Regions from separate parts of the Homo sapiens genome. Here region 1 is linked to region 2. Evidence: fine-mapped expression QTL. Tissue or cell type: neutrophils. Region 2 holds a variant in brackets; the other region holds the start of a gene. All regions are shown on one strand. Distances are from middle to middle.

Region 1 (2,685 bases), 28 kb before region 2:
TCGGGGCCCCGCCTGTCCCAGATCCCCGGCCGCTGCGTGAAACGCGAGAGCGCTGCCGAGCGGGGACTCCCTGAGGGAGGGACCTCGGACCCCGACGGACGCCCGGGACGCGCGGGCTCTCGGGCGCTCCGGCGGGGCTCGGCCCGCGGCTCCACAGCCCGCTGCACCCGCGCGGCTCGGAGCAATGGAGGATCAGGCAGCGGCAGAAGCTTCCGTTTCCTCCTTTTTAAATGGCTCCAAAATATTTCTTGTCGGTGGTGTGGAGTAGAGATTTATTGGTAAAATACTTGACAGAAAGCAGGCACTCAGCTGAGTAAATGGTGACAAAATTGGTGAGAAGATTTTTGAACAGGAGTGAACGAGAAAAGCCATGCTTAGAAAAGTCACCTGGAAACTGTGATTTAGAGGGATGGTAGGAAAGAGTGGCAGCAGGAAAGTGGTTTGGATGCTCTTTCAATGGTCTAGAAGAGGTCATGGGGCGGGGGTAGAGGGACAGCTACCAAGACAGGGAGCCTGGCCGCCGCTGTACCAGCGGGATCGAGCCTTCGGGTAGAGGACCGGAGAAGCGTGAGCAACCCGGGGCTCGGAGGTTGGAGCCCAGGCACCTGAGAGAGGACGTTCCCCACCACCGCTGCCTAAAGCCACTCCAGGCGAGAATCGCTTTCCAGGGCCCCAGCGGATAGGTTAGACTCAGAATAAGAGAAGGGGTCTGCGGAGGGGGACGGCCTGAGGCCCGCGGCCGGGTTCCCTCCCCAGACACCCGCGGAAAGCCCGAAAGGAGGCGGAACACGGCCCAGCGGCTCGCCACGGCGGGCCCATCCCTTGCTTAGCCGCCTCGCACCCTCGCCTCACCGCACTGCTGCACTGCTGCACTGCTGCCCTGCTGCCCGCCCTTCGCATCACTGACCCGCCCTCTCTCCGCCCCCTCGCCTCGCCGCCCCGCCCTCTCTCTCCGCCCCTTCACCTCGCCGTCCCGCCCCCTTGCCTCACCGCCGGGCTGAATTGCCGCCCCGCCCTCTAGCCACGCCCTCTGGCCCCTGCCTCTAGCCCCGCCTCTCGCCTCGCCGCCTCGCCGTCCCGCCGCCTTGCCGCCCTGCCACCCTGCCGCCCTGCCGCCCTGCCGCCCTGCCGCCCTGCCGCCGGTGGTCGCTGCCCGTGGTGCTCCGTCGCCCCCGCCACCTCACGTCCTCCCGTGCGTCGGGAGCGTCTCGGCTACAACATGTTGGGCATGATCAAGAACTCGCTGTTCGGAAGCGTAGAGACGTGGCCTTGGCAGGTCCTAAGCAAAGGGGACAAGGTAGGCCCGCAGGGCTGCCGAGGACCTGAAGGATTGCTGCCTCCCACCCCCACCCTCGTCGGGGCTGCAGCGGGTGCTGAGGGGCAGGTGGGGCAGGAATGTGCTATCGAAGGTGCGTTCTGGTGTCTGTCGCGAGTGCGGCTCTCCACCGCCCAGCATTTGGACTGGGAAGGAAAGGAGTGAGAGGTCCCCCTGCAGCCGGTGGTGAGAGGAGGGGGGTAAACAGGAGAGACTGATCCAAGGAGAGAATCCCAACTTGGGGAGTTGGGCACTGCCTGTTGAATGCATTCTTTCGTTTAAAATATTCCAAACATTCCGAACAGTTTGATTTGTTGAGAGACACTCGGTTGCAGAAATGAGTGTCGCAAGAAACTCCCAAGTACTAGAGAACTGCGGATAGTAGCCCCCTTTATCCGCGATTTCAGTTACCTGTGGTCAGCTCTTGTCCATAACTATTAAATGGAAAATTCCAGAAATACAGAAGTCCTAAGTTTTAAGTTTCCGGCCATTCTGCGTAGCAGGATGAAATCTTGATTCCTGGGACCGGAATGCCCCTTTGTCCAAGGTCAGCCTCCTATCTCTAGTAGCCGCCCTTAGTCACTTAGTAGCTAGCTTGGTGATCGGATCGACCGTGGCGGTATTGAAGTAACCCTTATTTTACTTAGTAATGGCCCCAAAGTGCAAGCTTAGCAATGCTGGCATATTGTTATAATTGCTGTTATTTTATTATTGTTGTTCATCTCTTACTGTGCCTAATTGATAAAGTTAAACTATATCATAGGTATGTATGTATAGGAAAAAACGTAGTAGATACAGGGTTCAGTTTTGTCCACCGTTTCAGGTATCCACTGGGGGGCTTGGAAGGTATCTACTATAGATAAGGGGGACTACTGTGTAAAAGAACAAGATCTGTGCAGAATAGATATAAATGCGCTACGCAGGGAGCACAGAGGCAGTCAATTCTGCCAGGGGGCTATGATGGGGACCTCAGTGGAGTGTCCTGAGCTGGGGCCTCAGGGATGTGTAGGAGTGCACACAACAGAGAAGAGCATGCACAAAGGCCCAGAGCTGTACCATTGCTTTTGGCCAGTTAGATCCTCTGGAGTTGGGTACCTAGAATACAGAATGAGTGAGAAGAGCATAATTGCTGTCTTCCCCCAAATTTATATCAGTGCTAACATGGGCTAACTGGACTGCACCCCTGAAAACAAGGAGAGTGCTGCTAGATTATAATCTCCTGGTGGACAGGTAGTTTAAACAGTGCAGCTGTATACAGAGCTCCCAATACGATGCCTCATTTGTGAAAGGACTGTATTGCCTGGGGGCCAAGTTCTGATACCTAGTACAATGATCTTCATATCACGAAAGCCCTCAATTAGACTCTAATC
Region 2 (2,685 bases):
GAGCAAGAGAAGAGGTTAACAGGACTTGGTGGCTGACTGGTGAATGAGATAAGGAAAAGGTTTGAAGAGGAGCAGAGCATTGCTCCAAACTATGCCACTGTGGCAAATTGGTTATTTTGAGCTGAAGGCAATGGAGAAATGGCAGATACAGGAAGTGCTGTCTGCCCTCCCCTTTTCTACCTAAAAGCAGTATGTAAATTTCCCCTGAGAAAGGTGCTCTCATTCTACTAGGAAGAGGAGAACATGCTTATCACCAGGGATGGGGAGTCAATGCCAAGATGAGTCTGTACAAACCTTATTAAAATTGCCCTTCTCTTCCATCAGTTTCCCCGATATGTTTCCTAGTCACTTTCCCATCCCCCTTCCAGCCCAAACCCCTTTTTCCTTTGTCATGTCTCCACAATGTATTGTTCTTTGTTAAAATGGTATATAATTCTCAAATCTAACTGCTTTAGAGTTTTCACTTTTTTCTGTGAAGTCCTCCATGCCACATAGAAATATTAACATCAGATAAAAATCTATATTTTTTCCTATTAATATTTTTTCCCTGTTAATCTGTCCGCAAAGGTTATTTAGGCCTGCAGAGCATCCAAGTGAGGCTATCTAGTGGACAGTTGAAAGTGTGGGTCTGATGCTACAAATAGAAGCCTAACGTGGAGATGTGTTTGGACATCACAAATATCTAGATGGAGTAGGTGAATTATGAACTCTCCCAAGGAAAGGCCAGGAGTAAGAAGAGAAGAAAATCTAGGTAAGGACTCAGGAACCCTAATATTTACAGACAAGCAGAAGAAAAGAGCCGACAAATATTGTTTAAAAGTGGCTAGTTATATAGGAGAAATGCCAGAGAATAAAAAAGGAAGAAGGTAATCAGTGTGTATCAAACCACTACATCAGTAAGTGCTACTGACCCAAGTCCTAAATCATCTTGAAGCCATCTCTGCTGGTACCATCTTAGGATGTATCACCATCATTCTTGCCTGAAGTCCTGCAACAGCCTTCTAATTGGTCTCCACATTTCTGCTCCTGCCCCCTTGGACACATTTTCTACACAACTTCCAAATGGATCTTTGCTTTAAAATTCTTATTTTGCACTTAGACTAAAATTCAAACTCCATTTTATGACCTGCAAGGCGTTGTGTGATTTGGCCCCTTCTGACTACTTCTTTCTTTCCAATCTCTCCCTTAATACCCTTCTGCCACAGTGGACTTTGAACACACACAGCCCTTTTTTGCCCTAGAGCCCTTGCACTAGCTGTTTTGTCTGCCTAAAACCCTTTTCACTTCCTTTTCAAATGGCCAGGTTTTCTCATCCTACAGATCCTAACTACCTCCTCTTCAAAGAGGCCTTCAATGGCCCCTCTAGCTAAAATAGAGTCAGCCTCCCCTATAGTTCTCCATCATACCATTATATTTTTGCTTTTTTCATAATACAAACCACTGTATAATTATTTTCCTTTTTCTCTCAGATCCCCAGGTAGCCATGGTCTTGGGGAAAACTGTGTCCTCCGGAGTGATCAGAGCCCAGTGCTGGACATCATGGAATGTAATTTTTTAACTTATTCATTTCCTCTTTTTTTTTTTTTTTTTTTTTTT[TG/G]TCTCTCACACAAGACTGTAAGTTTGATAAGGAGGAGCCCCATACCTGCTTTGTTCTCCATTGTATGCCCAGCACCTAGCTCAGGGATCTATCATTTAAGAATGCATGAAACTGTAACAGAAAACCAACAGTAGCTTAAGCCAAGAAGGTTTTCTTTTCCCACATAGCAAGAAATCCAGAGACAGGTTCAGTACTCAATGCTGATGTCTCTGCACTTGCCTTTCTCTCTCCCTCAGGGCTGCAAGATGGCTGATGCAGCTCCTGCCATCTCATCCATGTTTAAGGCAGGAAATTAGGGAGATGAGGACAGGCTGTATCAGTTGCATCTGTCCCATTTTATGAAGAAACAGAAGCTTTCCCAAAAGTTTCCCCATCAGAGTTCTACTTTTATCTCATGGGCCAAAACTAACATACAGGGCCATCCATAGCTGCAAGAGAGAGTGTGTGTTGGGTTTTGTAGCCTCTATAGTGAGGAGCAGCAAGGAAGAAGAATATTTAGAATGGCTCTGAGGTAGCTGATCAACAGTGTCTTTTGCAAGGAGACTATGTAAAGATGCGTATACCTGAGGTCAAGAGTTTGGGAAGATGGGAAACAGCTGGAGAGATGGGTTGAGGCCAGATTGCAGAGGATCATAGTCTTCAATTCTATATTCTCACTTCTTTTTTTTTTTTTTTTTTTTTTTTTTTTCTTTTCTTGAGAGAATCTCACTGTGTTACCCAGGCTGGAGTGCAGTGGCGTGATCTCAGCTCACTGCAGCCTCTGTCTCCTGGGTTCAAGTGATTCTCCTGCCTCTGCCTCCTAAGTAGCTGGGATTACAGGTATGTGCCACCATGGCCAGCTAATTTTTGTATTTTTAGTAGAGACGGGGGTTTCACCATGTTGGCCAGGCTGGTCTCGAACTCCTGGCCTCAAGTGATCCACCCGCCTCAGCCTCCCAAAGTGCTGGAATTACAGGCATGAGCCACCACACCCGGCCTATTCTCACTTCTGAACCAAGCATATGAGCTAGTGCTCAGGAGCAGTAGCGGCCTCCCCTCATGATGTCTCCTGCTTCCCCCATCTCTCCTCTCTCCCACTTTGAAAACCC

Which allele goes with the higher level. Positions count from the first base shown, and alleles are read on the strand shown. Sizes are in standard deviations (SD) of each study's normalised expression.
For the expression in neutrophils of the gene that starts at base 1,069 in region 1, allele TG in region 2 goes with a lower level than allele G (moderate effect, 0.57 SD a copy in CEDAR).

The links. PIP is the estimated chance that this variant, and not a neighbour inherited with it, causes the effect.
Region 1: it holds the start of HEBP1, and the variant in region 2 is fine-mapped to the expression of HEBP1 in neutrophils (CEDAR, PIP 0.95).

The regions. Positions count from the first base shown.
Region 1 is chr12:12,998,649-13,001,333 of GRCh38, reverse strand. HEBP1 (heme binding protein 1) reads left to right here and starts at 1,069. Exons shown (of 4, transcript NM_015987.5): 1 at 1,069-1,297. The coding sequence starts at 1,220. All of the region lies in intron 2 of GPRC5D-AS1 (GPRC5D and HEBP1 antisense RNA 1), which reads right to left. It also overlaps the pseudogene HTR7P1. RefSeq lists silencers at 1-124, 885-1,004, 1,055-1,204.
Region 2 is chr12:12,970,917-12,973,601 of GRCh38, reverse strand. All of the region lies in intron 1 of GPRC5D-AS1 (GPRC5D and HEBP1 antisense RNA 1), which reads right to left. It overlaps LOC124903100 (small nucleolar RNA SNORD88), which reads right to left and starts at 1,549; the gene lies at 1,459-1,549. The variant TG/G (reference allele first, on the strand shown) is at 1,597.